Linked DNA regions of Homo sapiens: all the other regions are reported to be linked to region 3. Evidence: microRNA targets listed by miRTarBase, many of them from high-throughput screens and not tested one by one. Region 3 holds a microRNA gene; each other region holds the end of a gene's coding sequence.

The links. Region 3 holds the annotated microRNA hsa-miR-548ac (CAAAAACCGGCAAUUACUUUUG, at 3,024-3,045, shown strand). A microRNA usually pairs through its seed, bases 2 to 8, with sites in the 3' UTR of a target mRNA and lowers its output. Matches are read on the target gene's strand: a 7mer-m8 pairs with bases 2 to 8, a 7mer-A1 pairs with bases 2 to 7 and ends in A, and an 8mer does both.
Region 1: miRTarBase lists CMTM6 as a target of hsa-miR-548ac. Seed matches in the 3' UTR shown: 7mer-A1 at 1,279-1,285, 7mer-m8 at 1,526-1,532, 7mer-m8 at 2,019-2,025 and 7mer-A1 at 2,821-2,827.
Region 2: miRTarBase lists TMCC3 as a target of hsa-miR-548ac. Seed matches in the 3' UTR shown: 7mer-A1 at 3,728-3,734.
Region 4: the mRNA of RAB5IF is a reported target of hsa-miR-548ac. Seed matches in the 3' UTR shown: 7mer-A1 at 3,965-3,971.
Region 5: the mRNA of VEZF1 is a reported target of hsa-miR-548ac. Seed matches in the 3' UTR shown: 7mer-A1 at 1,215-1,221, 7mer-A1 at 1,774-1,780, 7mer-A1 at 2,113-2,119, 7mer-m8 at 2,189-2,195 and 7mer-A1 at 2,709-2,715.
Region 6: miRTarBase lists FBXL13 as a target of hsa-miR-548ac. Seed matches in the 3' UTR shown: 7mer-A1 at 2,415-2,421 and 8mer at 2,351-2,358.
Region 7: the mRNA of CABLES1 is a reported target of hsa-miR-548ac. Seed matches in the 3' UTR shown: 8mer at 1,545-1,552.

Annotation. Positions count from the first base shown.
Region 1 is chr3:32,480,352-32,484,979 of GRCh38, reverse strand. CMTM6 (CKLF like MARVEL transmembrane domain containing 6) reads left to right here. Exons shown (of 4, transcript NM_017801.3): 4 at 883-3,668. The coding sequence ends at 1,020. Among named protein-coding and RNA genes, the nearest start is that of CMTM6, 20 kb to the left of the region's middle.
Region 2 is chr12:94,567,669-94,571,668 of GRCh38, forward strand. It overlaps TMCC3 (transmembrane and coiled-coil domain family 3), which reads right to left. Exons shown (of 4, transcript NM_020698.4): 4 at 1-4,000. The coding sequence ends at 3,767. It overlaps MIR7844 (microRNA 7844), which reads right to left and starts at 3,684; the gene lies at 3,563-3,684.
Region 3 is chr1:116,558,455-116,563,082 of GRCh38, reverse strand. MIR548AC (microRNA 548ac) reads left to right here and starts at 2,972; the gene lies at 2,972-3,059. All of the region lies in intron 1 of CD58 (CD58 molecule), which reads left to right. It overlaps LOC105378925 (a long non-coding RNA gene), which reads right to left. Exons shown (of 3, transcript XR_947739.2): 3 at 1,896-4,628. RefSeq lists enhancers at 416-565, 3,165-3,404, 4,456-4,505.
Region 4 is chr20:36,611,847-36,616,379 of GRCh38, reverse strand. RAB5IF (RAB5 interacting factor) reads right to left here. Exons shown (of 4, transcript NM_018840.5): 4 at 3,823-4,370. The coding sequence ends at 4,329. It overlaps TGIF2-RAB5IF (TGIF2-RAB5IF readthrough), which reads right to left. Exons shown (of 5, transcript NM_001199535.2): 5 at 3,823-4,370. The coding sequence ends at 4,329. SLA2 (Src like adaptor 2) reads left to right here. Exons shown (of 8, transcript NM_032214.4): 6 at 1,006-1,155; 7 at 1,943-2,075; 8 at 2,394-4,062. The coding sequence ends at 2,514. Among named protein-coding and RNA genes, the nearest start is that of RAB5IF, 8.3 kb to the right of the region's middle.
Region 5 is chr17:57,970,598-57,975,225 of GRCh38, reverse strand. It overlaps VEZF1 (vascular endothelial zinc finger 1), which reads left to right. Exons shown (of 6, transcript NM_007146.3): 6 at 326-3,674. The coding sequence ends at 753. Among named protein-coding and RNA genes, the nearest start is that of VEZF1, 15 kb to the left of the region's middle.
Region 6 is chr7:102,809,861-102,813,860 of GRCh38, forward strand. FBXL13 (F-box and leucine rich repeat protein 13) reads right to left here. Exons shown (of 21, transcript NM_001394494.2): 21 at 1,329-3,671. The coding sequence ends at 3,482. It also overlaps a transcript of FAM185A not described here. Among named protein-coding and RNA genes, the nearest start is that of FAM185A, 63 kb to the left of the region's middle.
Region 7 is chr18:23,256,426-23,261,001 of GRCh38, reverse strand. CABLES1 (Cdk5 and Abl enzyme substrate 1) reads right to left here. Exons shown (of 10, transcript NM_001100619.3): 10 at 532-3,775. The coding sequence ends at 3,635. It also overlaps a transcript of SLC35D4 not described here. Among named protein-coding and RNA genes, the nearest start is that of CABLES1, 120 kb to the right of the region's middle. RefSeq lists enhancers at 1,360-1,409, 1,040-1,703.

The sequences.
Region 1 (4,628 bases), not on the chromosome of region 3:
GGGGACTTAATGAATTTGGAGCTCAGTTTACTTTGTGGTAAAATGAGGTGGAATGCTTATTCTTTAGAGGGGGGAGGAGAGGTCAGGAGACTGCAACAGACTGTAAGAGAATGTTATTAATAAAAATCGTGGAGATAGGGAGTTTAGATTTGGAAGAGACTTTAGCCATCACCTACATCAATTTTCTCTTTTTTACAGAGAACTTATCTGGCCCCCATATCCTTAAGGGTTTTGCTAGTGGAGAAGCTAAATTTGAAGCAGACGCATGGTCTTCTGTCTCTTGATAGAATTCTCAGAACGTATGATCGTATTTTAGAAGAGAACAGTTGAGGAAGTGATTTAAGGAAGAGGAAGTAGGTAGTGGCGTCATGTCACTGTGTCATTGCAGTGTGACAACTGGAACATTATTTAAGTAATTTAACCTAATAGTATCTTCAAAATGGAATTTCTGTTTTGATATTAATAACTTTTTTCATTTTCACCTAGGCTGAGTTGCCTAGTCACGTATTTTCCTTATCGCATCTGTGGGTCAATCTAACCATGCAAATATTTTTGTTTTGTATCATTTTATAGGATTTAATGTTTATCTGTTAACCCTACTTTCATATATTAGCCCTCCACATATAAACATGCACACATAAGGCAGAACATTAATATTTTGTGAGACTTTGACTAATAGCCATTATTCTGGAAGTTTTTCTTTTATAACTTCTTTCCATTTTTTGATGACTTAAAAAAATTTTTTTTACCATTAAAGAGTAGTCGTGTATAAGATAAAATTCATGAACATCTTGTTTATATGAAACATTCTCCAAGCCAAGTAGGAAATGTAAGATTATATTCCAAAATTCTCATATAACCTTTCCTCCTTTTTTTCCTCAGGTGTTTGGATTTATAGCAAGTTTTATGTTCCTACTTGACTTTATCACTATGCTGTATGAAAAACGACAGGAGTCCCAGCTGAGAAAACCTGAAAATACCACTAGGGCTGAAGCCCTCACTGAGCCACTTAATGCCTAAAGACTCTGGGGAGCAGATGTTACCTAAGGTAGTGACCCTGCATTGTGGTGCCTGAGCCCTGGCAGAAGCTCTTGTAAAATTTGTTAATTGTTTAAACCACTTCTTTTGGAGAGCAAGGGGAAGGTCAAGAAGGCAGTTTTATCAATATTGTGTCAGTCACCACAAAGTAGGCCAGATAAGTTAAAAAAAATTTTTTTTTAAATAATAATTGAAACTTATCTCAAATGGAGATTTTGGTGGGAGGAGGAGAAAACAATTGTTTTTAAATCACACAGCTCAACGGTTGATAAATGATTCTGTCATTCTGTTACAGGTCATTCTTTTACTAGGCTTAGCTTCCAAATTATGCTTTATAGCTGTATAAACATCGTGATTATATTCATCTACTTAGAAATTGTTTTATTTTTAAATTAATTTGCTTAGCTGTTTGTTTTGATGCTTAGATTATGTTCTGTTAATGGGAATTTAACATATTTAAGAAACCAATATTTAAAATGTTGGTCTAGGTTTTTTTCCTTAACATATATTACCAGGCTTTACTGTATTTCACTCAGCCTTAAATGTTATAATATTTTTGGATAACGGTTATTAATTCTTTGAGACCTTCGTATAGCCTATAAAATGTATGGGAGATGTTGGTATTTTATGTGTATAAAAGCAACAATATCAGCAACTTCGTGTTTATACTGCACCTTGGTTGTTGATGTCAAGTAAAAAAAAGATTGTTTTGTAACACATAAAAAAATGGAAGAAACTGATACCACACCTAAGGACCAAAGATAAGAAAGACTTTTTGCCCAAGACAGTGAAAGTAATTATAAAAACAAGCTTTGACCACTTACCAAGTATCTGAAGAGATGAGTTCATACTATGATTTAGAAAGTGGTTCAATTCCCCTGTTGGCATATGATTATTTTTACTAAAATTAATACAGCTCTGTGGGTCTTCCTTAGTGTTTTCTTTGAAGCCAATCTGTTTTTTTTAGGACACCAGCCTTTGGTTTTTCATCTGTTCGAGATGCCTCTTCTCTGTCTCCTTATCAGATAGAAATGGAGTCATGTGCTGCTGCTTCATCTAGCAGAGGTTGGCCTCTGGCTCTGACACTTTTTGTCAGTTGTCTTTAGGTGGTCCTGAATCTTGGGCCCTTTTGATTGTGAATACTGTGTAGCAGGATCTTGAGAGTCCTTGTTCTTACATAGGCATTGCTCTAGTTTGTCTTTGGCAAAAAAAAAAAAAAAAAAAAGTAAATATCCAGGGAACCCTGCCCAGACTAATACTGTTGGTGGCATAAGAGAATCAAGCCATTCTCAAGAGATAACTTCATAACCAGAATTGTCTGTTGGCTAGCAGCTGTCACAGATAGGCAGGGCACTTGGGATATGACCTTTCTGTCCAGGTGATTCACAGACTAGACCTTTCTTATCCTCCTCCTAGAGTTTTGACTTGGGACTCTAGTGTTAAGATGATGAGCCCGTGCATCAGGTCCTTCTGCACTTTGGTGGAAGTCTCCCAGGGTAGGTTTCCTATTTGAAACAGTGGAATCATGTTTCCAGTGATAAAGTTTAATGACCTCATCCTTTTTTTTTTTTCTCATCTGCCATTTGTGTGTCTTAGATGGGTTTTAATTGCATGAATGTGGCTAATGTGGTTCTCAGAAATTGGTCAGTATGGCCCAACATAGCTTCTGCTCTGTCTTACTGACTCAATACCTTTAGGATTTGTATCAGAGTTTGGATACTAGTGTTAGTGGTGGTGTCACCACTACTTAATTGGGAGATAATGAAACCAATCATGGATGCTGTTTTTATTGGGCATGTCATCTAAGAGAGGAGAAATAGCTGGGTTTTGGGTCTAATTATGAATAAGGACTGATTCAGAAAACGAGTTTATGGTAGGTAGACTAAAGTTTCACATCAGACTGTACCATTGTGATTTAGACCTATCTAAAATTCAGAGCATATCATCTGGGCTACCTCAGGGTCACCACCCATGTATTGGGCTTAGTCAGGATTGACAGATACATTCTCAGCTGGCCTGTCATATAAAACATACTGTCATTGAGCTTAAGCTCCGCTTGTTCTGAGGTTTCACCTCCATGTGTTTCATTGGTGCAAAAGTGGATCTCTTAGTTGGTCACTTAATTCTTTCTTTTTCAGAAAGATAGTATGTTCACTGGTATATTTGGTCACTCTTAGAACCTTCCTTCACATTGTTTTTTATGGGACCCATGAATGGTTAGCCTTTCTTTTCTATTGTAGAAGGAAATAAATAGGAGTAAAAAGACCATTGTAGTAAATAAGTTCAAGGGGAACTTGGGACCAGAAACCACTGTTATGTACAAAAAAATGGCAAATTCAATAAACTCAAATTTAAAATAATTTTTAAATTAACAGTTATGATAAATTTTATATTTTATACAAATAGATTGCTTAGAATGGTTCTCAAGAATTATAAGAGAAATGAACTCACAGTACAAAAATTTTATAATTACTATACTTGTGTTTTGTTTGGGGGCTGGGAAATGTATTTTTACATTGTAGCCAATCATTTTATATTTGTCAATTTAAATCTTATGGGTCTTTTTTTTTTATCTCTCTTGATGTCAGATTTTATAGTCTTTTTAAATAAATCCATTTAATTAAAACGTTCTTACCTTTGTAAGTGTTTATTACAGAAGTGTGATGTTTAAATGAAAAGCTGTCTCTGTAGTTGTGGGAGTTGGCTGCACAATCTTGTTGAGTGCCTATATAGAATACTAGATTTTAGATATATCTAGGATAGAAAAGAAACAAATCCATTTCCCATCCATAAACTGTCCCTCTTGTTGGAAAGTTAGAATACACATTTAAACAACATTTTTAGGGAACCACAGAGGAAGACTTACAAATGGCTTTAAATACTTCCAAAGAAGCAATTTAGACTCCTTGTCACATTTCTAGATGTGGCTAACAATGCTAAAAACAAAATAGGCACATTATCTTAGGAACTGTTCAATGATTGGGAAAGTGTGAAGCAAAATTATTAGGGTGGTGCTGGTAAAACTACAGCTATTTGTGTAGTTTGCGAAATTCCTGCCTCCACCCTGTGTGAGAATAACAGGGTCTTTATAGTCATCAAGAACTCACTGGAATTTGTACATTCTTCAGAGTTTAGAGTTGAGTTTTGTTTTGATAAAGAGCATTGTATCAATATGCAATAAGCTGCAAGAAGCAGAAAATCTAATTAAATGTGTCTTAAACAGTAAGAAAAACTTATTTCATAAGACATCTGGGTACATTGGTGAATTCAGTGGCCAAATTTTTCTACAAGTACAGTAATGTGTGTCATAGAAATTGATATAATAAAGGGGGAGGCTGGGCGCAGTGGCTCACTCCTGTAATCCCAGCACTTTGGGAGGCCAAGGCAGGCGGATCAGCTAAGGTCAGGAGTTCGAAACCAGCCAGGCCAATGTGGTGAAACCCCATCTCTAGTAAAAATACAAAATTTAGCTGGGTGTGGTGGCACATGACTGTAACCCCAGCTACTTTGGAGGCTGAGGCAGGAGAATCGCTCAAACCCCAGAGGCGGAGGTTGCAGTGAGCCGAGGTCATGCCATTGCACTCCAGCCT
Region 2 (4,000 bases), not on the chromosome of region 3:
ACACCTCTTCATATAAGCCCTGAATTTTAAGTGGTGCCATTTCTTCCTACCCCCAGCCCACTCCTCAGAATTACAGAAATATGTAAAATAGGTTGTTTAATCACACATGTTCATATGAATAAATATATTTAAATGTTTTTCCAAACCAATACAACTATATCTGGATTCACTGCAAAAACATTCCCATTCAATGCAAAATAATTTGGTACAATCCGACCAAAAAAGACAAAAGTAATTAGTTGCCTGAGGGAAGCTAGTTCCTCATTATTACTGAGCCCATAATTAAACCTGATATGCTAGAGAAATGGCAAGGCAATAAACACAGAGTGGGGCAATATTTAAATGAAAACAAGAGTGACAGAGCTGGAAAGAGCGAAAACCACATGAATGCTAATTGACAGAGAAGGATAACAGCCTCACCGGCTGAAATGAAAGACGGAGTTTCGGAAGATTTCCTTCTGTGAATAGCTGACAAGGATCACGCAGGCAAAAATGCTACCGTTCCAAGCTACAAACTTGGGACTAATCCCATGTTCATTGTCCAAACCCAGCAACGGAGTACTTTTTTGCTGTTTCATTATGGATTTCCATTTTTTTTTTTTTTTTTTGGCAGTTGGGGGTGGGGTGTTCTGGTTTAATCATATTCAGAGTTTGAGCTTGAAATAACCAACTCAAGACCCACAGGAGACTATGTCACCAGATAAACCCAGTGCTAGAATCCAATGTCCAGCATCTTCAACCACTCAGGAGTGTTTGCTGAGAGACCAGGTGGTGCTTACCCACCCAACAAGCACTTTCCATCTTTGGGTTTGCCCAAGATGTTTACCATAAATGAAAGGGGTGGGGAAAGGATTATAGTTGACACAAACATAAATTAAATATCCAATTCCAGCATATGTTACAGCTACATCACTATTTTTAATTGTAATATTTCTAAAATGTCATTTAATCTCCTTACACATTGAAGAGAACAAACAGTGGGAGTGTTTATTCCTTAAGAGAGAATAAACTGCAGAGATTAAAAGTTTCCTTCGAGTGTATCATCTTATTAAAAAGTACAAAGTTTCATGAACTTTCAACAAGACTGCAAAATAAATATGCCAGGTAGGTTGAGCCTATCCAAGTGAAAACAAGGTTATTTGACATTTAGTGAGAGTCAATGAAAATATGAATTATTTCAAAGGAATTCATGATCCAGGTAGGAGGATTTAGATCCTACGGTATGTTAGAATAAAGCTAGTTTCTAGCAGATTCTGTTAACAGCTCCAGACTAGAGGGGACGGAGTGTGCTGCTTTCCATTCTCTTCTCTACTTCTGTCACTGGGGAGAAGATACACGGATCACAGGTCTGAGAAGTGTGCATTAAAGCACATTTGCTAGGCTGAGCACTGGAATGGTGTGGGCTGGTGTGAAAATGAAGCCTACGTCTTCTTGGACCCTCCCAGAGCCCTTCACCTCAAGGGTTAGACATCTCTCCTTCTCTAAACTAACAGCAGCACTCAATCCCTGGTGTGTCCGAAGTGGTGCTTGGAAAGATTCACAGATACCAAGAGGGGCCCACCCAGGCCCCAGCTTGATTTAGGAGTGTAAGTTACACTCAGCACTCAGCCCACGCTGAGTCTGATGCCCACAGGTAAAGGGTAATGCTGGCCATCGAAATACAAAAGCTAAAGGAAGCACAACATTCTCTCTGCCTCCCTGCCTTGCACCTGGCCTCCTTATCTGTCTCCCAGACTTGAAAGATCAGTGTATACACATCAACGCGGTAGACCAGGGGGAGTCTGACAATGAAAGGAGAGACAGCCATGAGATCAGGGTGGGACTGGTAAGGGAGCTCTTCTCTGAATCCAAAATACTTTATCACCAAAGATTTCATGAAATGACATTTATTGTTTAAAAAAGCGTGAGTCTGGAATTAGATAGTGGTGATGGTTGAACAAGTTTGTGAATTTACTAAAACCACTCAATTGTACGCTTAAAAAAAAAAGCAAGCTTGAGCTGCCTAAGTCCCGCTCACACACACTGGACTTGTACTAAATGCTCAACGATTCCATTCTCTCAGACTATGGAACATTCTGTCACATTTTTTTCCTTCAGGAGATTTCCCTAAGAAGAGCTGTTTGCAAAATATTGCACTTAATTTGAATCCAGGGGGACCTGATGTCTCCTGGAAGAAAACGTACACTCACATGCCTTCCTGCCTGCAGCAGATGGCGGGAGTGGTGGGACAAGGGGCTCAACAGCAGTTTCCATGAACATTGTTTCCATCTTCCTCTTTGTTATACACACAGAGACACAGATTTAAAGGAAAGTATCATCTGGGCTGAAGGCGGTGAATGGTATCCCCCAAACAGGGATGTGAACTTTTGAATGTTTTCAGCTCAGAGGCAGTATGGTCGTCCTAATACCTCAGGACTTATGTTCAGTGAGATGTTAAGAGACAGGTGGCAACCTTGGCTCAAACACTGGACTTAATTTATTTTATTCTTGCTAGTCTTTCACTTCTCAAAGACGATGCTCTCAATCTTCATCCAGGTGAACTGCTCCCACTAATCTAGCCACCATTCAGTCACACCCTACGTCCTCGTTTCCTCATGCTTTCAGCGTTCCGACACCTCAGTGCACTTGAACTTTAGAGGCTATGGTTCGGTTGTCCTTCAAGGAAAAAACTGCAACATGACCATCATTTGTTTTCATTTCCTGAGTAAGCTTTGCAGTCCCTCACAGACCTGTGAATAAGATGAATCACATAAAGTGAATCATATCCTCCAGGGGGGCTTATCACAATCAAGATTTGCCAAAAAACAGCCAGGCATGGTGGCTTGTGCCTGCAGTCCCGGCTGCTTGGGAGGCTGAGGTGGGAGGATCCCTTGAAGCAAGGAGTTTGCAACCAGCCTGAGCAATATTTAGCAGAGCCCTGTCTCAAAAAAGAAAAAAGATTTGCCAAAACACAAACCTTCAGAGTAGTGCTCACAGGATTCCAAATTAATGTTAAAGTCACAGTCTGATGAGGGATTTGAAAACATTCCTGCACACTCTGAAGGCTGGGCATTTGCTAGCCAGTTGAGACAAAATCAGGTGTTGGTTGCCTGGGTATGAGAAGGTGAAAGCCCCATTCATAAATCCCTATGCCTTCCCATTTAAAGTGTAACAAAACCCCTCAGGTAGACTTGTTGGATAACAGGTGTGTGATAAGATTTCCACGTTACAGGGTCATACACGACTGACTGCTGTGGACACTGAGTACATGACGGGACCTATGGTCCCCTGGAGAGAAGCAGGGTGGATCACACGGGGACCATAGGCCACAGTGTTTAACACTGCCCAAGCCTGTGATTCTTCATTCCCTGAATCATGCATATCCTTGCTTTTTATAGGACTCACAGAAAACAACCATTAGCAATTGTGAAGCTCAATTCTGACAGAGACTTAGGAGAGAGACCTCTTTCTTCAGGATCACCAATTATGCCAAGGTCTCAATATACAGAGGTTTACCACGCTGGGCTGGTCAGGTGGGCAGGAAATCGGTCTGATTAAGGCAGTGAGCAAGGTAGGAGAGCTCTGAAACAGATTCGTGTTAACGAAGTACAAGGACTGAGTTGGCAACTGCTACGGAGTTAAGAGAATTGTAGTTATTTACACCACACAGTCCTAGTTTTTCTTACACACGAGTCCGCACAATCATTCACTGTAAAATTTGGTAGTATGCACAGAGTTTTCTTTAAAATAAAAACTTGAAAGAACTTGAAGGCAGGAACCAGTGGCTTCATCTTGGTATTATCATCCTTTCTATGGCACACAGGATATGGTCCCAGTTTTTACAAAATATAGCAAGAAGAGTCACGGCAAAGAAGGTGCCAAGAATGTGGCAGCGACTCTTCATCATGGGTGAGACGAACTTCGCGATGGTGGACACACACACTAAGATGACAGTCATGAAGGCCAGGATCACGTTGATGCACCTCCCCAGGAGAACTTTAGCATTCACGGTGTCTGTCTG
Region 3 (4,628 bases):
CTCAGCACCTGTACCCCCATTGTATCTAGGAAGTAACTAACTTGCCTTTGATTTTACAGGCTCATAGGTGGAAGGTACTTGCCTTATCTCCGATGAGACTTTGGATTTAGACTTTTGGATTAATGCTGGAATAAGTTAAGATTTTGAGGGACTGTTGGAAGGGCATTATTGTGTTTTGAAATGTGAGGACATGAGATTTGGGAGGGGCCGGGGTGGAATGATATGGTTTGGCTGTGTCCCCACCCAAATCTCACCTTGAATTGTAATAATCCCCGTGTGTCAAGGGCAGGGCCAGGTGGAGATAATTGAATCATGAGGGCAGTTTCCTCTATACTGTTCTTGTGATAGTGAATAAGTCTCACAAGATCTGATGGTTTCATAAAGGGGAGTTCCCCTGCACACGCTCTCTCTTGCCTGCCACCATTAAGACATGACTTTGCTTCTCCTTTGCCTTCTGCCATGATTGTGAGGTTTCCCTGGCCATGTGGAACTGTGAGTCCATTGAGCCTCTTTCCTTGATAAATTACCCAGTCTCATGTATGTCATTATTAGCAGTGCGAGAATGGACTAATACACCCCATCTCTACAAAAAGTTAGCCAGGTGTGGTGGTGCACGCCTGTAGTCCCAGCTACTCAGGAGGCTGAGATGAGCCTGGCAATTGCTTGAGTCTGGGAATTTGAGGCTGCAGTGAGCCATGATGACACAACTGCATTCCAGCCTGGGTAACAGAGCAAAAAAATAAAAAATAAAAAGGTAGGAACTATTTTATTATTAACAGAGTCTGTCTTATTCTGCTGTTGTTGACATTTTACAGATCCTTTATTGCCAACTATCTGCATAACTAGATTTTAAGTTCCTTGTATGCAGAAGTCATGTATTATTTTTTAAAATTTTCCTTATATTGATCTGTTTTTTTTTAATAGTAAAGATTGTTGAATCTGAACATTAGATGACAATGTATTTGTCCAGCATTTCTCCATTTGAAATTATCTCACATTATTATGTGAGACTTGTTCATGTGCTTTGCTGGAGTTGAGACTTAGACAGTCTGTGTTTTTTTATTTAGCAAAGATAATCCAAGTTAAAATAGTGTTGTGTGTTCCTATAGGAAAACTAGGCCCAGTGTTATAACAGAGTGTAAGTAATAATAGCCACTAGGAGGTAAGTACCTGCTCTGTGCCAGGAGCTATGCTTCAGATTTGAGATGTTTTTATTTAATTGTCACACTGATTTTATTACATAGGGAACATTTAATAGGAGAACAAAGCTTAGGTAGGTTCAGTAATGTGTCCAAGTTCACACAGCAAATAAGTGGCAGAGTGAACTTGAACTTTGATTCTCTCTGAATCAGAACCTATTCCTTTATATGCTCTGTTGTATCCCTAGCCTGAGATCCACTAAGCAACTTTTTGAAGATGAGTACTACTGATTTCTTATATCCAACATGTATACATTGTCCAATGAAATTCTGCTAAAACATGGGAAATATAGGTCAGCACAATTACCAGTCATGCAAAATTGTATTTAATATCATAATTTGTAATGGTGAGGGGTGCTTCTTTGGGACATAGAATTTACAATGGCAATTTATTGACATATTTATTATTAACATTATTATATTTACATTCTCTAGGTACCCACATTTCACTCCTAGACACTTTTGCATAATCTCAATAACATCATAACATCTATAAATATTAACACTAATCCTGTAACATCACCTAACTTTTACCCGTATTCAGATTTCCCCACTTGTCACAAGAGTGTCTTTTGTTAAAAAACCCGGATCTAATCAAGTTTCACTCATTGTATTCGTTGCTATGTTTTTTTGTTTTAATTTTGATGGGCATCTTTCAGAAGTTTTAAAATAGTCTTAGAACCTCTTTTTAAGAACCAGATTTGAATAATTTATTTTATTGACCTCCTTGTCACTCTAACATTTCTTTAGTAAATACAGGCTTTGAGGGTAGGTATTGGTTTCTCTGTTTAAAAGTAGAAACTTTGCATAAATCAGCCCTTATATGTGTAAGTTTTCTGCCTTTTGGTTTCTTCTCATGCTGTTTCTGCACAAGTGCCTAAGCTTTTTTGAAGCTTTACTTGAGGGGTGACCAGAAGGTTTTACTTAAGGACACAGACCCTTAAATTCTGCAATGACAAATCTCAACTTCCATCTCAGGGTTGTAAGTGAAACCAGGATGCAGCCGTTTCTCTTTTCTCAGATAAGTTCAGGTTTGAATATAAAGTGTGACTATAAGATACAGAGACTGTCCCTAGAAAAGGAGGGGAAAACATTTTAGCAGTTCCTCTTTGGAGATAACTTTCAGTGCCTGCCCATCAGCCTCCAAGGAAAATGCTTTTTGGTTACTTTATAGGTTCTAGTGAACTTTGCTTACTTTACAATGTTCCCCAAAATGTCTGTTGAGATTAGTGCCTGAATTTCCACTGGGCTGACCAGTCTGTAGTTTCTTGAACATTTTCTTCCTATGCCAGTTAAAAATTAGAAGAAAATTGAAGTTTAACATACACATTCAGAAAAAAATAAAAAATCAGATTAATAAGAAACTAATGAGGCTGTGCCATTGTAAACTACTTGCAATAGAGTTTCCCAACGATGAACTGAGTATCTAGAAAATAACAAGGATTCTCAAGGAATTTTAGTGAAATGATCAGTACTGTATTGAAATACCTTGAATCAGACTTTGGAGAATAGATTTAAAAACACTCACAGCCTTAACCGATCTAGTAAGAACCTTATTCCCTAAAGCATACTGTGGATCTCAGCTGTATCCTATCTAAGGTGAGAACAGTCAAAGACAAATGTGGCCTTTGAGAAAGGTGGGATGTGAGTGTCTTGAAACAACAGGCTAAAGAAGTGCTCTCAAATAGAAGTATAATATGGAACATGTGAAATTAATTTTAATAATATATTTTAGTTAACCTAATATATCCATAATATTTTCATTTCGACATGTATTAGGTTGGTGCAAAAGTTATTGTGGTTTTTGCTATTTTTTTTTAATGGCAAAAACCGGCAATTACTTTTGCACTAACCTAGTAGTTACTACAAAAAAATATTAACAAGAGATTTTATGTTCCACTTTTTAATACCAGGTCTTCAGATTCTGGTGTGTATTTGATACTCAGAACACATCTCCATTTGAACTAACCATATTTCAGGTTCTCACTAGCCACTTGTAGCTGGTAGCTACTTTGATGGATTGCATAGGTCTAAAGGGAAACATCTTGAGAAAGAAGAAATAGGTTAAGTGCAAGAACAAGAATTAAAAAGGAAACTATTTTAGCATCATATTAGAAGGAAAGTACAGAAAGAAGTTGATTTAGAGAACCAACATCTTAATTCTTGATGAACTTATCGAGGAGGCAGATTGACAGCTGAGAGCAAGGTCCGGGAACCTTGCTCTGGCCTTGGGGACCGAGGGTTTGTAACCGTTGGGAGACAGGTGGCTGCAGTTTCAGTATGAAGTAGATGAGGGCAGGGAAACTGGTGGTGGTGTGGCTGAAATCAGTAAATCTCTGTCTTAAGGAAATAAGAGAAGTCACTAACTGGGACCGGCTAAGGGTGGAATCGATCAGGAAAAAAGAGGAATGGCCCCAACCAAGGCATCTGATGTTCTGGCCAACAGTGCAGGCTCTGGGGCCGACTGCCTGTGTCTGGACACCAGCTCTGCCCCTTGCTAGCTGAGTGAATGCAGTCAGCTGACCCTCTCAGTCCATTTCTTCATCTGTAGCCTGGTGCTTCGGAATCTTTGACCTTCTCTATCAACCAAGTGTCCAGCGGAGCAAACCACCTTACTTTGATAGGCGTGTTCTCAAGAAATAACTCCTTTCTCACTCTCACCCCAGATGTTCTTAGGCTCGCTCCCCTGCTTTTCTGGACTCTGCTCAGATGCCAACTTATGACTGCCCCCCATGCCATCCAACTCCTTTCCTTACCAGTACTCCTCAGCCCCCACACTCTGCTTTATTTTTCTCTATAGCACTTAACATCATCCAACATCATCCAAATAAAAGATATTTACTTTTTCATTTATTATGTTCTTCCCTCCACTGAAAAATAGACTCCAAGAGGGCTGGGATTTTGTCTGTTTTGTTCATTGCTATATCCTGCCTGCTTATTTCAGTGTCTGGCACATAGGCAGGACTCCATGAACATTTGATGAACAAATAAATGAATAATAAGAACTACCTCAGAGTTGAGTTGAGGATTAAATGAGTTAATACACAAACAGCTCTTGGAACAAGTGCTTGTCACATAGTAAGCCTGCAGTGAATCTTCGTGCTGCTGCTACTGTTAAATATTATTACTGAGGCTGAGCTGGCCTAGGGCTCCTTGGATTGGACTTGCTAAGAGCTAGGCAAGAGTCACAACTGTATGAAACTTGATTGAGTTAAAACAAACAGTGCTACTCCTCTTTATTATCTCCATGCCTGGTAAGCACATTTTCTACCCCCAAAATTGGGACTGACTAATATGAGAATATTTATGGCCTTAATAGGACAGGTTATTTGATACAATTACTAGCCTAGACATTTTAGGAGATTGGCCGCTCCTCAATACTATAAATGCATATATGGGTGTGTAGATAGAGATGTTGCTTCCCAGATT
Region 4 (4,533 bases), not on the chromosome of region 3:
CAGCCTGGGCAACAGAGGGAGACTCTGTCTCCAAAAAAAAAAAAAAAGAAAATTAAAATAAAAAAAAAAAATGAAAAAATGAAACATGCAAAGCTGGTGAAACTGTCATTCATCAGTGTATGTAATGTATACATGTAGGTTGAGCAGCACTAATAAAACTGACATCCACGCGCCCACTTGCCAGCTGAAATTACCTAACAAGCCCTTTGTAGCCCCCTCTCATGCTTCACTGTGTTAATCATTCAGTTGCTTTTCTTCAGAGCTTTGCCGTGTGTGCCTGTGCAACATATAATGTCATGTTGGCTATCTTTGAACTTTAAATAGAATCAGGCTGAATGTATGCTCTGTAATGTTTTTCTGCTTAATTTCCAAGATTTCCTTATGCTTATATGTAGCAGTTATTAATTTTTACTGCTGTATAGCACTACACTCTATAATCCACAATTTATTCTACTCTTGAGCACAAACGGGCTGTTTGCCGTTTTTGACTTTTACAAACAATGCCGCTGTGCATATTGCTTGTGTGCTTCTGAGGTATTGTGCCTGGGAAGAACTGCTGGGTTGTAAGGTACGTGCATGTTCAGCTCATCTAGTTAATGCCAAACTGTTTCCAAGGTGGCTCGTACTAATTTCTCTTCCACCAGCAGGGTGGGAGGTCCTACTTCTCCACTTCCTTGCCAGCATCTTCTTGACAGTGTTTTTGCATCCTAACATATCTGCCACCTGAGTCTTTGTAAGAACAGCCAACGCTGAATGTTCACTCACACAGTGCCAGACCCTGTACTGAGGGCTCTGTGTGTGATTTGATTTCACCCTCACAAGACCCCCATCTATTATGAACATATTATTGATGACCAAGAGAGCAAGTCTTTGTCCTGCTTCTGCCCCAGACACTTCCCTTCTGCCGGGGCCCCATGGTCACGTTGCCTATCTTCGTTTCCCAGCCTAGGTGGGGCCGAGTCCCAGCAGGGCCTCAGTGCCACCCCTGGACCCCTTTCTCCTCAGGCTCTTACTCTCTGTCAGTCCGCCTCAGCCGCCCTGCATCCTGGGACCGGATCAGACACTACAGGATCCACTGCCTTGACAATGGCTGGCTGTACATCTCACCGCGCCTCACCTTCCCCTCACTCCAGGCCCTGGTGGACCATTACTCTGGTATGGCCTTTCCCTGCCTCCAGGACTAGGCTGGGATAGTCTGTGGGGAGGAGCAGGCAGTGGTGCCCTTGGATATTTTACCTACTGTGGAGTATTCAGACAGACAGAAGAGCGGCCTCCCCTATTTTCACGCCAGTCCCTATGCCAAGAAATGCAGGCTGGGAGCCCTGTCTTCACCTCGTGCCCTGGCAGAAAAGCCACAGACCTCCTGTGTAGGCTCAGGTCAGTACCTTGCCTACCACTCTGGTTCTGACTCAGAGCCCCTGGCAGCAGGCAGAGTTCTCTCCACAGGAACCGGGCACAGAGCTGCTGCTGTGTGGGATTCAATCCTGACTCTCCTTAGTACTTCCTGGTGCCTGTCCTTCAACAGACACTGGAAGATGCAGTCACTGGGCACAGCGTCAGGGGGCAGAGAGGGAAGAGCACTCTTGTGAAAACTCATTAGGGGTTTTCTGCAGGTCACTCTGTGTGGAAGTAGACAGTGAGTAGAAGTAGACTGAGCATTCCTTAGCTTTCTTCTTCCCAAAGCAATTTCCTAACCAGAAACTTGAGCTCAAGAGGTCCATGAACTCACCCTAAATCATACAGTGACTGTCTCCCAAAAGTTAGCCCAGAAAGACCTTTGACTACATCTGTCTCCATGAAACCAATAGCTTGGGGCTCATGTCCTATCACTCTTTGGTAACCATGCCCCCTCCTGCCAACTGCAGAGGGCTGTCAGGGTGAGGGCTGTTGGGGAGAAGTAGGGTGGAGTCAGTCATGTCAGGGATGGAGGTCTCTTCCTCAGAGCTGGCGGATGACATCTGCTGCCTACTCAAGGAGCCCTGTGTCCTGCAGAGGGCTGGCCCGCTCCCTGGCAAGGATATACCCCTACCTGTGACTGTGCAGAGGACACCACTCAACTGGAAAGAGCTGGACAGGTAAAGTTGGGGACTCCTGGAAACATGAAAGCAGGACCAAGAGTTAGAAGGACCCACCCCTGGGAAGCCACAACCCGGAATGTACCTGTCACACTCAGGGACACCTGGCAGCTGGAGCCAGAGTGCACTGACTCAACTCCTGGAGCACGGCCCAGGCTCGACAGGTGGGGCTGGGGAAGCTGATCTGATAGGGAACAGGGGAGCCCCATGAGGTCCTCAGCAGGAGTGAAGGGTTTTGAGAACAGTGCAATTTTGTGTGTAGTGAGTACAGGGAGGAGGAAGAGGCTTCTTGACCCAATTATCTTCCTTTGTCCACAGCTCCCTCCTGTTTTCTGAAGCTGCCACAGGGGAGGAGTCTCTTCTCAGTGAGGGTCTCCGGGAGTCCCTCAGCTTCTACATCAGCCTGAATGACGAGGCTGTCTCTTTGGATGATGCCTAGGCCCAAAGGAGAGGCCAAAAGGGAAACCAAGGCTGCACACCTAGAACCCCAATTCAGCCTCCTGGGCACCCCAGAGGCAAGGCTGTGCACTCAGGGAGGGAGGGTGGGACACAGAGGTGCATCTAGGGTCCCACCTGTACCCTTGCTCTTTCCTCTCTTAGCCCTTAGAAGTCACCTACTTCCTTCCAGTGCCATGATCCCACCTGCGACCTCTAGTGCGAGTGCAGAGAAGGTGGGACCAGGGCCAGGGTTCCAAAAAGAGAATAAGCCTCCTGGGGGGTCTGACCTAGTTAGTTCTTGAGTTTGGGGTTTCCAGTACCATCTGGATGCCCTGCCTGTTGAGCCCCATTCTACATCCCCACCATTAACCAGGCCCCACCCACAAGGTAGAAACAACCCCTAGAGTCAACGAGAAAGTCATTTTCAGAAAATCTACAAGTCTCGTTGAGACCACCACCATACCTCAGAAGGTAGGACTGTGGCCTAGAAGGGAAAGGAAAGCTGAGATGATGTCTTACCGTAGCAGCAGATCTTGGATGGTCCAGGCTCTATGTGACCTCCAGAGCAAAGAGAAAGACTTCGGACAGTCTAGGTCCTCAAATGTCCCCCATTGAGGACAACAGCCCCAGCTCTTTTTCTTTTTTTTGAGACGGAGTCTTGCCCTGTTGCCCATGCTGGAGTGCAATGGCACGATCTCAGCTCACTGCAACCTCCATCTCCTGGATTCAAACAATTCTCCTGCCTCAGCCTCCAGAATAGCTGGGATTACAGGCGTACACCACCATGCCTGGCTAATTTTTTTGTATTTTTAGTAGACATGGGGTTTCACCACATTGGCCAGGCTGGTGTCGAACTCCTGACCTCAGGTGATCCACCCACCTTGGCCTCCCAAAGTGCTGGGATTACAGGTGTGAGCCACGGCACCCAGCCTAGCTCTCAGATCTCTATTTCATTTTGTGGCTTACCATTCCCTAGCACACTGGCCTTGCCATCTTGTGGCCGAATAAAAAATAACACCTCTTAAGTCTAGCACACTGCAGTGAGGCCAGGCACCTCAGTGCTGGGCAGGGGCATCAGAAGGTGCTAAGCCCTCTCTCCACAATGCCAAGACGGAGACCACAGCCTACACCAAATCCAGCCCTTGATTTCCCTGCTGCCTCCATAAACAGAAAGAGGTCTGCTGGATCCGCTAAGGGATCAGGGAGAGGAAGAAAGAGGGATGGGGTGGGAGGCACCCCCTCCAGTGCTCCTACTGGTTCCCAAGCTACAGGTGGGGTGGGAAAGGCTTTATCAGGTATCATCAACAGGTTCTCAATTAAAGATTTGATTTATTCAAGTATGTGAAAACATTCTACAATGGAAACTCTTATTAGATGCTGCATGTACTGTGCTATGGACCACGCACATACAGCCATGCTGTTTCAGAAGACTTGAAATGCCATTGATAGTTTAAAAACTCTACACCCGATGGAGAATCGAGGAAGACAATTTAATGTTTCATCTGAATCCAGAGGTGCATCAAATTAAATGACAGCTCCACTTGGCAAATAATAGCTGTTACTTGATGGTATCCAAGAAGAAATGGTTGGTGATGGATAAATTCAGAAATGCTTCCCCAAAGGTGGGTGGTTTTTAAAAAGTTTCAGGTCACAACCCTTGCAGAAAACACTGATGCCCAACACACTGATTCGCGGTCCAGGAAACACGGGTCTTCCAAGTTCCAAGGGGCTGGGGTTCCCCAACGATCAAGTTCCTGTGCTGTAATCAAGAGGGTCCTTTGGACTGGATAGGGAGCACTTGGGAGCTGTACACCATCAGTCATAATGGATGGCAGTGTAAAAGATGATCCAAATGACCTAGTGAGGAGACAAGCACTGTTCATAGGTCACCTGGCTTAACACAGGCCGATTCCACAAAACAAAAATGCCAGATGAGAATGTAAACACGGGGCACTCTCCAGGGGCTATCCGTTGCACAGTCTGCTTGGGGGGTCTAAATTATTTCACTGAAATCACGCTG
Region 5 (4,628 bases), not on the chromosome of region 3:
CTGCATTGCAGAAGTTAACTGATCCTCTCAGCATCACTGTGAGGTAGGTAAGTAAATCTGAACTTGAAACCTAAAGTGCAAGGCTAAACAAGTTGCTTAAGTCCTTGCAGGAGGTATAGCATCAGAAGGTGATTCATACACTGGGATCCCTGGCCCCCAGGCTTGTGCTCAGAAAGATCCTCTGTTCTGTTGACCGCTTGATAGAAAACTGGAATTTGATTTATTAAATGTTTGACATTTTTAATGAAAAGAAATTGATTCAGAAACTTTGTGAATTTTGCTCACTGTTTTGAGAATCTAAAGACCCTTTTTCTTCTTATTTTAGAAGCTGCTAACCTGTGCCAAACCTCCACGGCTGCTACGACACCTGTGACTCTCACTACTCCATTCAGTATAACATCCTCTGTGTCGTCTGGGACTATGTCAAACCCAGTCACAGTGGCAGCTGCAATGAGCATGAGAAGTCCAGTAAATGTTTCAAGTGCAGTTAACATAACCAGCCCAATGAACATAGGGCATCCTGTAACTATAACCAGTCCATTATCCATGACCTCTCCTTTAACACTCACTACCCCAGTCAACCTCCCCACCCCCGTCACTGCCCCAGTGAATATAGCACACCCTGTCACCATCACATCTCCAATGAATCTACCCACACCTATGACATTAGCCGCCCCTCTCAATATAGCAATGAGACCTGTAGAGAGCATGCCTTTCTTGCCCCAAGCTTTGCCTACATCACCGCCTTGGTAAACAGTATTATAAAATCAAAATATGGGTAAAAGTAAATATTTACCAGCAACTTAACTTTTAGTTGATTAAAGCAAAAAGTAAACCATGAAATTGGGAGATTTTATTACATTAGTTAATAAGAGTGTGGTAGCATTTTTCTCCAATTTGGCTGGGATTATTCAAAGTAGGGTGTGTATGTAACTTATCACTGGACCACTTTAGTTTAATCAGAAATTCCTTTTAGCTGACAACATTGCTTAAACAGGATAGTAGTTGGCAAGATGAAATGCCAGAATTAAAACCAATCATAAGTAGAACCCACTTCAAAATAAAAAAACAGCATTACTATTTCTAATCCCAAGGAATCACTTTATTGTAAACACTAGCAGAACTCTTCTCCCTATACAAGGTGGATGGCTGATTTTAACCTGAAATTTTAAATCCACAGATTGAGAGCTAGTGTAGAATTGTCTGTGTTTATTGTTTTTATGAGTAAATACATGCATTGTCATAATAAAATGCATTTCAGAGAATATGCATTTTACCTTTGGGAATATGTTAATTTCAGGCAGCATTCCCTATGGGAAAGGTGATACCAGCTCTGATATGCAAAGCATATGATAATTTATCATTCTAACTTCAACGTATAATAGGGATTGTGACCTGATATTTGGAGATGTAAATATTGCTCAGCATATTAATCCCGATGGAATATAGCATTGTAGTTGACTTTTTAAAAAAAAAAAAAATTTAAAAAAAATCTACAAATTGTGTTTTGCTAAGAAAAGCCTCAACTGACAGAGGAGAAGTCAAGTGTGTGGACAGGCAAGCTCCTAATAAACAGAGTCCAGTGGGATTCCTATTTAGGAGCCAAGGAGTACTTTGGAACAGTACAAATATATTGCTTTAAATTGGAAGACGCTGGAGGCACTGGGATGTGATATGCCCCTCTCTCTCCCAATCAGAGCCTGTTGATATTACAACAGGGACAGATGTGTTAGTTGCTCACTAGAGTTTATGTCTTATATTAAATTGTATACAGTTTTTATTCTAACCACTAACTAGGTAGTGTATGCCCCTTCAGAACATGCAGAGTGTATCTTTTTTTAAATTTCTCCTTCCGTTTCTTAAGTATTGCGCAGATTTGTTCAACTTTGTAAATATGGACATCACTTTTTTTTTCTTTGAGAAAACACTTGTATCAGCTTTGTGGTGTTTTCAGGGAGACAGCTGTCTGCATTCCCTGTAGAAACCCAGCAATGATTATGCACGTTGAGACATGTGCTTTTTATTTCTTAGCAAGATATTTTATCTCTGTACATAAAGTAGAAACCAAAAGCTAGGGAAACAGATACTCTTTACACCATCATGCCACGCATTGTTTTTAAAGCATTGCGTTAAAAAAAAAATTAACTAAACCAAGATGCTGTGATTTTTTAAGTTGCAATATGTTTTTGGTTTTTTTCATTTTTTAATCATTGCAGTTAAGAGAAATGGAAATTAGTTGTGTTAATCTTGCAGAATGTTTGCAGGACTGACTATCAAACTGGATGATTTCCATTTATACCCTACTGTGTCAGTTCAAGCATCAAAATACCTTGCATCTGAGACAGACTTCCTACATCAGGGACAGGTATCTGTGTGTCATTATACAAAACAGTTCTAGGGGGTTGAACTACATAGTAAAAAAATAAAATAAATAGTACTTAGTGTAAAATAATTTTATAAATGATCTTTTGTACTTTAGGACATTAAATTGTACAACTTTTGTATATATAAAAGCTTAGGAACTTTCTGTTTAGCAGGAAGGCAACACATTCCTACACTTTTAATGTATATGTTTGTTATAATGTCCATGTAAACATGCCCTATGTTTGTGCCTTTTAATTAGTTTGTCTCAATAAACAAAATGTAGAGAAAAATATGTAGCTATGACTTTGTTACAACTGTTCTTATCCACAGTACAAAAATGGTTTGTTTTTAATATGTAGAGCATTATGTGTGGACTACTGGAAGGACTCGTGTAGGGAAAGCCCAAGAATGACCTTGCTGAGGCCTGGATTGGGAGGCACAGTGGCCACATTTGGAGGAAGTTCACATTTCCTGGCATGCAGACCCAAAACTGGGTTCTGGCTCTGCCTGCTGGGATCTGTTATCTCTGGTGGGCTGGCAGTCATAATTCACAATTCAGACAGCCCAGGCTTCCTCCACAGTGGTCCAAGGAGCAGTCCTCAGTGGGGGCAGGTGTGGGCCCTACCCCTAAGCTAGAATGTGGTTGTCAGAACCCTGAAAGTATTAGTTCTAAAAAAAAAAAGATATATACTAGAAGTAATTGTTTTATCAATTCATTGTATAATAAACAGGAGTGAGACTTCATTGTATGACTTCAGTTAAAATACTATTTTGTATGCATTCTTTATTCACTTAAGAAGCTTGTCTGCAATAATAAAGCCACGTCATGTCTTCTTTTGGGAGGGAGAGAGTCGATGGCAGGAGGGGGTTTTGGGTGGGCCACTGAAAAGGGGTACCGAATAGGTTGTGTGATGAAATTCTGTGTCTTGGAACTGGAATTGAGTTTCGATGTTGATGAACTGATTCAACCAGGTGTTGAAGGCACGACAGCCACTGCTCTACGAAAAGGCAGAGTACGTTTTTCCCTTCTGGTTGTAACCTGGTTGAGAGCTTCCCCTTTATCAGATTGGCAGCTAAACAGTTGTATTAGATAATCCTTAAATCTGACATCCAGCCTGTTACGCTCTAGGGCTCGCTGCTTGGCCTGCGTTTGCTTTTTATTGTGTATCCGTTCCCCTCCTACGGTGTGCTCCTGAATGAAGGTTTCTATGTAAGCAGATGATGATTTTACCTGTCAATACCAGCACTGTATTACTAACATGCAAAATACTGCAGATTTATTTTGAAAATTAAAGTTAACTGGTCACAAATGTTATGATGGATTGTTTAATACCTCAGAAGCTTCATCAGTTTGCTCTGATAATAGAGGAATTTTTCAAGTACTTTCTTTTCAGGTGCGCACATCTCAGTATTGGGTTGGAGAGAGAGGGAGGGACCAGTATCAGGCTGGTTGGAGGGTGGAAGGGCACCAGACTGACTGCCCTTGGTAGGTGCACCCTCCCAAGCAGCTCAGGTAAGGCCCAGGAAGCTAGGATGGAGGCAGTGGCCACAGGTTTAGGTCCCTGTCCTACCCAAAAGAGAAGATGGGTTTAAAACATTTCTTCTCATGCTCTAGGACCCAATTTCCTTAGTTGAAAGGGGCTTTAAGCTGGGTCCCTTGCCCATTTGTGTTCAACTAGATTTATGAGATGCCCACTGAGGACCAACAATGTGCCACGCACTATTAGGCACTAAGGGGCATGAAAAGTTGATTTAAGACATGGTTGCTGCCTCCAAGGAGGCTGTTAAGGGAGATGGGACGAGTGATGGTATCACCAAACAGCAAATCAGGATGAATGTGACACTTCATTCAATGAAAAAGTTTTGGATACCTACATCTGTTTTATATAGAATTGAGGCTTTCCAAACTTCCTGTGATAATTGTCTTAGGCCTTTAGTGACTCAGTGAACACAGCTGGAGGAAAGTGTTCTTCGTGCTGTGTTTGTCCTAGGAACAAGGGAAGTGTTATTTCACTGAGTTGCTAGTTAATCATTCCAGTCCCGGCTGTTCAGGTGTCTCCACTCTTCTCAAGGGGCCCTGTAGTTTGGTCCTCTGAATCGACCTAGGTTTAGGATGTAGAGGAGATAGTGGAGGTTTTCACTTCAGTATCCTCAAGGATCATTGGACCTAAAAGTCCAATCTGTTCATGGGACAGTAATCAATTTTTCCTCCCTGCCCTAATAGGTCTGGCCATCAGTCTTGCACTTTTTCCAATTCCTCCTTA
Region 6 (4,000 bases), not on the chromosome of region 3:
TGGGCAGATTTCTCATTAATTGTTACCACCACCTTCTTGGTTCTGTCCTCATGATAGTGAGTTCTTGCAAGATCTGACTGTTTAAAAGTGTGGGTATCTTCCCCGTCTCTCTCTTGCTCCTGCTCTTGCCATGTGATGTGCCTGCTCCCACTTTGCCTTCTGCCATGAGTAAAAGCTCCCTAAGGCCTCCCCAGAAGCCAAGCAGAGAGGCCCGTGCGATGCTTTCACAGCCTGCAGAACCAATTAAACCTCGTGAGTCAATTAAACCTCTTTTCTTTAGAAATCACCCAGCTTCAGGTATTCCTTTATAGCAAAACAAGAATGGCCTAAATCGCTTGGATTATATTTTTTATGATTAAGATAAGTCAGTTCTTTTTTTGTTTGTTTTTTGAGACAGGGTCTTGCTCTGCCACTCAGGCTGGAGTGCAGTGGCACAATCTTGGCTCACCGCAACCTCTGCCTCCGAGGTTCAAGCGATTCCCATGCCTCAGCCACCACAGTAGCTAGCATTACAGGTGCACGCCACCATGCCCAGCTAAGTTTTGTATTTTTACTAGAGATGGGTTTCACCATGTTGGCCAGGCTGGTCTTGAACTCCTGGCCTCATGTGATCTGCCTGCCTCAGCCTCCCAAAGTGCTGGGATTACAGGTGTGAGCCACTGCACCGGGCCAGGAGAAGTCCATTCTTAAACACTAATTTTTAATAAACCTTTCCAAATATTATTATTTATGATGATCTTTTTCTTTTTTTCAGACGAGGTCTCACTCTGTTGCCCAGGCTGGAGTGCAGTGGCATGATCATAGCTCATTGAAGCCTTAAACTCCTGGCCTCAGGCATCCTCCTGCCTCAGCCTCCTGAGTTGCTGGGATTACAGGCAGGTGCCACCATGCTCTAATTTTTAAATTTTTTATAGAGATGGGTTTTACTATGTTCATCAGGTCTCGAACTCCTGGCCTCCAGTTGTCCTTCTGCCTTGGCCTCCCAAAGTGCTGTGATTATAGGCATGAACCACTGTGCCCAGCCTCCTTTTCATTAATTTTCCATTTCTTTAGAGTTCTGTTTTTAACTTCTTATTTATGAAACAAAAGTCAGCTTTGTAGGATATCTCAGAGTCTCCTTTTAGTTCACCCTTCATGAAATCAGAATGTATACAAGTCTGAAAGATACTCACACATTGGTATATTTGGTATGGTTGTGGTGTGTTATACTATTAAGTAGAGGAAACTGTGTAGCAGTGAGGCAGTTTTGATAATCTTTTTTCACCCTCATGCAATTACATAAACATTTTCATGACTAAAAATAAATTAGCTAACCACAGCCAGAAAAGTCATAAGCATAACAGCAGTCAACTATATTTAAAGCTACTAATGGAATTGTACATATTTGGATCACATTGTTAAGTCCCAGACAAAAAGAAAAAGCTGCCATAATTTACTCTCTTGGACACAGACCTATGAATATGAAATACGTAAGGGCTAAAGACCTAACTAATATCTTTGATATTTTGAGTAGTTTGCATCGAAAACTTAAAAGATTTCTCTACCTGTATCCCTATTCTTGGTCTCCTTTCATAGCTCACTTTTTCTACTCCTTTTCTTCATTTATGTAGCTGTAAAATTTGTCTCCCCAGAATGAATGAATGTGTCTTCTGTTCTTGTTTAAGAAAGGATGTTACTCAAAGAGCTTTGGAGCAAGCTCTGAATGTAAAGCAACCTGCTAGGTTTCTGGAGAACATAACAGGGTGTGTTTCTTACCGGGGTCTAACCAGTGCAGGTGTCATTCCTTTAGAAAGCAATTGCCTCTTTTATAAGTTCCACCAGTTGTGTGCATGAAGCACTTAGGGATCAGATTTTTGAAAACATCTTTAATGCAGCTGCCAGAAATTTCCAAATTTAGGTTAAAATCATACTCTTATGTCATCTTATGTCTCTTGGCTATGGTCTAAAACTTCCCACTCAAATGATTCTGTTGCCTGTGTGCCCACTCCTAGGAACCTTTCCACAGCTAAGTAATATTACCTTATTTCAAAAACTTTGCAAGTCAACCTCAGTGGGGGAGAATTACTAAAAGCATTTAGCTAATACAAGGTAGCCTATAATAATACTTTGTACAATCTTTTTAAAACTTTTCAAAATAACGATGCTTTATCTTAAGTTTTTAATCCTTATTTGAAACTTGTGGGATACAAAAAGAGAATTAACTCCACGTGAGAGATAAGTAATTGAGGAAATAGAAAGGTTAAAAGGCTGATCTGATATTGCTGACAAGGCTTGTTTGCGGCAGTCAGAACAGAGTTGTGTTTTCTCTTGGACTGTGTCAACATCAGTGTTACATAATATCAAATAATGGTAAAAACCCACAGATGTGCTCACTTCGGCAGCACATATACTAAAACCTACGGATTAAAGCTTATTAAAAACTAATATGTAGATATGCAATTAATAACCCATACTTCCTAGCATAAAATTGAGGGAGCATCTTTTTTGGCATAGCATAGTTTAAGAATTCCTCCGTTGTGCAAATTTGATTAAAGAGATGTCTTTCTGAGACATTGCAGGGACATTCTTTCTATTCAGATAGTTCTTGTTTCTATTTAATTTGCCCCTGACTAAGTCAAATGTTGAGATAAGTACAGAGTTAATTGGCGGCATTTAGTTCTCTTTTGTTGTTAAATGTCTGGAAACCACAGAAAAGCCACATTTCCTTTGAAAATATTAATATATGTCTGTATTCTTTATAAAGCCTTAAAAAGCGTTACAGATCCTTAAAGTTATTCCCCTGGCTCAAACTCTTAGTTTGACATATGGCCATCTCTGCTTTCTTTTTCCTTTCTAAAGAAAAATTTCTTAATTTCTTGTCAAAAAAGTCTCATCTCTCAGGGTTGTTTCATATAACTGTAGATTTTATAATCTCATCAAAACTATTGGTTTGATTAAATTTAGGCAGAAATTTTGTGTAGTCAGTACTTGATTTGGCTTCTTTTTTTTTTTTTTTTTTTTGAGACGGAGTCTTGCTCTGTCGCCGAGGCTGGAATGCAGTGACGTGATCTAGGCTCACTGCAACCTCCGCCTCTCAGGTTCAAGCAAGTCCCCTGCCTCAGCCTCCTGAGTAGCTGGGATTACAGGCGCCCACCACCACACCCGGCTAATTTTTGTATTTTTAGTAAAGATGGGGTTTCACCATGTTGGCCAGGCTGGTCTTGAACTCCTGACTTATGGTCCACCCGCCTTGGCCTACCAAAGTGCTAGGATTACAGGTGTGAGCCACCGCTCCTGGCCTGGCTTCTTTTTTAAATCATGATTATTTAGACAGAAGAACTACTGATGTGTTTGGAAATATTTGTAGTTGGAATAAGAATCAGAAGATGGTTTGTTGCTTGTTTACATTGTTATTGAGATTCAGCTAGTAAACATACTTGCAACAAATGGAGAAAACTTGCCAAGTTCTTGATTTTTTGTTCTTCCTGCTTGAGGCTGAAGGTCACGCTGCTTGGTCTTCACTGCTGTATGTTGACTTTTTCACTGTTAATTCTAAGGCTCCTTTAGATGATGTTATGTTGTCAAGCTCTGTAACAGGGTTTCCTTCCCTATCATAGCCAAACCAACGTGGAGGGTCATTAGTGTTGTATTCCTGCTGCTGAACTTTAGATGACATTCTTTGAGCTGCCTTCCTGTAATAACAGTGCTTAGCATTAGCTAGTTGCAGAAGTAACCCCTAGTGCAAAATTTTCAAACTCAACCAAATTTGGAGTTAGGGAATTCACTGTCACAATCTGAATTCACATGAGACCTCTCTTGCCTTGCTGAGAGTGAGGATATGGGTAAGTGTACAAATAAACAGGGTCCCAAAGCCTCAGTAACTCTGATTCAGCCAGTTCAGAAATTAACAGATACAGTGAATGGGTAAGGAAACTACACATGGCCATGGAAGAGGAACACTGAGGCCTCTATTTATTTATACTGCTTTAAGTAAGCCCCTTCCTTGGTATTTCTAGTTTCT
Region 7 (4,576 bases), not on the chromosome of region 3:
TAGCACCCCTTCCCATCCTGGCCTGGGTCCCTTCCGCTGGGCTGTGTGCAGGTGGCAAGAGGACCTTTCCCCTTCACCTGCCATTTTTCTTCTTTTCCAGCTTTGAATCTCAGCTTTGCTTTGCAGCTGCATGACTGGAAGCTGCTTTTTATTGACATTGGTGTTGGTGATGTGATTCCAGATTTACACTCAGTTTACTCCCTGCTCTTGCTGGCCCTCAGCACTGTGCTTACCCAACTGTGCCAACAGCCCCGGGGAGGTGACGTCAGGGCGCGCCCCCATCCCCAACCCCAAAAATCCCCCTTGATTTGAAAGATGTCTTTTGTTGCTGAACAGGTAACAAAACCACCTGGCTCAAATGCACTTCATTCTCCAGCCTCCCCCCACCCCACCCACTTAAGCTTGCAGCAGGGCAGAAAGGCTTCAGGCTCTCAGGAGTCACGGGAGGCAGCCAGGGCTGGGGAGGGCAAGGGGCCAGCTGTTCAGCACTAAGCCGGAAACGTCTGAGTGAGAGATAAAGAACTCAGCAGCCAGAGCATTCAACAGTTTTATTTGCTGTTGGGGAATGAAGGGAACAGGAAGGAATGACATGGAGGGGAAGGAAGCTCCTTACTCCCGTCACTAAGGTAGGGCACGTGGTACAGAGTGGCTTGTGTGAAGCGGCCGCCCCAAGCTGAGCCTGCAGCTGATAACCACAGACACCCTGGCAGGGAAATCTGTGATCGGAACAACAAAATGCCAAGGAAAACAAAACCCATTTGCATTTGGTATGAATTTCCTGTTTAAATAGGTTTTATTAGCGGGCAAGAAAGGAAAAGTGGTGACTTCAAGGTGTCATTGGGCTGGCAAGGGCTCGGGCCCCTGGAGGGGTACAGTGGGGGCTGGGCCACACTCCCTGCTGCCCGTTTCCTCCTGGGGGCAGCTGCAGCAACCTCTTGGCTTGTCTGCTTCCTGTCTCTTACCTAACAGTCAAGGCTCACTAGAGGAGTCCCGGGCCCCCTAGGCTGGCTCCGGGGGAAAAGGAATCAGGCAGAACCGGCTAGTATTATCCCAAGGAGTGTGGCTGGGCGGAGCTTCCCCACAGATCTCTGAGTGTGGGGAGGACTGGAGAGGCCTCAGGGCAGTCCTGAGAGGGGGCAGGGCTTACAAGGGGCTGAAGCTGCCCTCTGTGGAGGAGGTCAAAGGGCAAAACCTCAGAGCCAGTCTACTGCCTGGCCTTCTCGCTTCACAGGCTCAGACTTCCTCCTCGCCGAAGCCCAAGGCTGCGACGTGTCTGGAATGTTCCGTGTCACAGAGGTGCCTCTGGCAGTGACCTGCATCTCTCACCCTCCTCCACTTCCTTTGCCTCCGAAAAGCTCATGTCATGGACGTGCAAAAGGAGACCTCCTGATAAAATGCCTTCTCAGCCCCGACTCCTCACAAATAAATTAAAACCCACAAAACTGTCCATTCCACAAATCCACAGGCCAGGAGACAGTTTAAAATGAAAATGCATCTTTAAAAAGTAATGGACCACTAACTTCATGGGCTCACCTCATAAATGCTAAAAACCAAACAAATCACCCCAAATCCAAGTAAATTAGCCTGATTTTATCACACAGGAAAGGACTCAGGCTTCTCTCCCCACGTCTGGGCTGGCGGCCTGTCATCCATCGGACGTCCCTCCCCCCACCCCACTCCCCAGAGCTTGGCAGGAAATTCGGGGGCAGATGGGCAGTGGGGAGCTCTCTAGACCATTCTCAGATACCACAGGACCTGCTTCTCAGAAAGGCTCTCCCCCTGTAGGCACTGACCAGGAAGGTGGATGGCTTATCAGAGATGCAAGGTGACAGACCCCATGTGAGGAAGGCCAAGGGCATTTTGTAGTTCAGGCGATGGAGGCACCTTGAATATTTTCTCAATTTTGCTTTATAAACAGCAAGTGCCCTAAGTACCAGTTGATCTAGCTTTCGATCAGCCAAAGAGACCACATTAATCATATCCTCTCCCTCCTCCCTCCCCCCACCACCCAAATCACTGTCTTACAACTGATTCTGGCCAAGGAAATTTGTTAGCAAAATATTTAGGACTAAACTCAGTGCAATCTAAGATTCTGAAGAAGCCAAGTATTCTGTTTTGGCCCTCACCAGCTGCTGCTTGAATTTCTCCATCCTCCAAGACTGTCAAGAATCTGACAGCTCTGCTAACGAAAGCTGCAGACCCTCGGTTCGGTTCCATCGCCCTTTCTCTGGGCTGGTGTGTGAAGCTCCGAATCTGTGACCTCACTAGAATCAGTGTGCGCAAGGGGATCAGCAATGCAGGGCAAAGGTGACTGGTGAGACACACGTCTACACAAACGCATACAGGTATACAAAAAGCAACAAGAGTTTAATTCTCTTTTTACATGGCCACAGGCTCTCTTCAGTCAGGGGAACTTCAGCTGGTGCCTCTCTCTTGCAGCTATGAGGCGACAGTGTGGTGACATGCCTCATACAGACTGTCCCAGTAAGCCAGGACAAGTCACCATTAAAATCTTGCATGAACAGCCCTGGGCACGTGGGAATGTTAAGAAAGAGCCACCGCCTCCTTAGTCAGCTTAACCACAGCTCCAAACGCAGTTTGTCCCAGCTGGCAAACGCCTCAAACACCAATCATGCGTCGTGCTCCTATTCTGGGTTTTTATAAAACACTTTTATATAGCGATATAGATAGCACAGTAAATGTGCTTCTGATGCACTCTAACATAGAGGACAGGAATACACACTGTGGGGCGCCGCCCCAGCCATCTCCACAGTGGAGAAAGTGCGAGGGTTAAATACACGTGGCGGGGTGGCAGACGGCAGGAAGTTACAGAGCGCCACGCTCCACGTCCTTCCACGCGACTGACTCATCCAACACTCAGAACTCGCCTTCTTTATCCCCTTGGTGGGTAGGAGCAGTAACAAAACAATGTCAGTCATTTTCTAAGGGTGGAGGATGTCAAACTGTCTGGTACCGAGAGAGCAATTCTTATCCAGAAATCATCTAGAAATAATTGTTGAAGGTCAGCCTGACCCATGGCCCCAGGCTAAGGGCTGCTCTGTAAAGGGCGGGACTGGCTCTGGGGGTCTAGGGCTGATGCAGTATCTCTCAGACACTTGCACATTCACACACCCACACGCCCCAGGGGAAAGTGCACTTCCAATGCTGATACAAAAATAGATTGGCACACTCTTTGACACAATGAGGGTATCTTTTAAAAGTTTTCCCCCAACTTCTGCAGACTCTCTTCCCCCGTATGCTCAAGCCCTTCACACTCCAAGTTGGAACAGATCTGGAGAAGGCCCTGGACCACGCTTGCAAAGTTTGTGAATGCCGGGGAGAAAGACTGGGCTGGGGCAGCTAGGGATTCTCGCTAGTGGACAGAGGGCAGGGCCTCTCTGTTCTCAGCACACACCTCCTCTTCCCGTGCTTGAGGAGTCCATAGCTCATGGCTCCTCTTGGCTACACACCCAAGACTCCTTGGAAAGTTTCTAGTACTGCTTCTCCCCAAACTATGTCGAGAGGAAGAAAAGTCTGGTATTCTGAGTTCTACTTTTTTTCATTTCCAGTAGTAAGTAAGTGCTGCTCCACCAAGCTGAGAAGAAATGGCCCTTGGCTGTCCTCGGGGCCAGTGCTAGGAACTCTGGACCAGCCGTCTGTAGTGGGGCATGACTTCGTGCTCGGGCAAGTGGAGGGCGAATTCCAAGGCCACTAACACCGGGAATTCAAAGGCAATCAGTTCTCGCCTGTTCAGCCGGAACTTCTCTTCCAGTTTCTGCAACAAAAAGAAAATCAAAAGCATGTTCATTTTGAAATTAAAATCCTAGTCTTTCTGCAATTGCAGCTTCTCTATCCACCAGCCAGTGAGTGCTCAGGAGAAATCCACTTTGGGCAAAGCTCTGTGGAGGAAGAAAGGGAGGCACAGGCTGTGCTTCCTGCCTTCGGTCCTGGTTGTGAAGGAGCTGCTCCTTTCCCGAGGGGCTGCCCGGAACCACACATACATCTTATGACATCATTTAATCCTCTCAGGAATATGACATGGTTCATGCTCCGTATCTCTATTTTACAGATGAGAAAACGGGCTCCAAGAAGTCAGAGAGCTTAGCCAGGGTCACATGTGTAGCCAATTGCAGCACTAAGAGTCCACCCTAACTGGGACTCAAACTCTACCTGTGGCAACTAAGTGATTCAGGTTTAAAGGGAAGACTGAAAATAAAGCAAACCGGTGGTGGCTCACGCCTGTCATCCCAGCACCTTGGGAGGCCGAGGTGGGTGGATCACTTGAGGTCGGGAGTTTGAGACCAGCCTGGGCAACATGGTGAAACCCTGTCGTCTCTACTAAAAATAACAAAAATGAGCCGGGCGTGGCGGTGGGCGCCTGTAATCCCAGCTCCTCGGGAGGTTGAAGCAGGAGACTCACTTGAACCCGGGAGGTGGAGGTTGCAGTGAGTCAAGATTGTGCCACCGAACTCCAGCCTGGGCAACAAAGCAAGATGCTGTCTCAAAAAATAAATAAAAATAATAAAGCAAACCACGCACGACAATAAAAACCACGTGGTAAGTTCAGAAGGGAGTG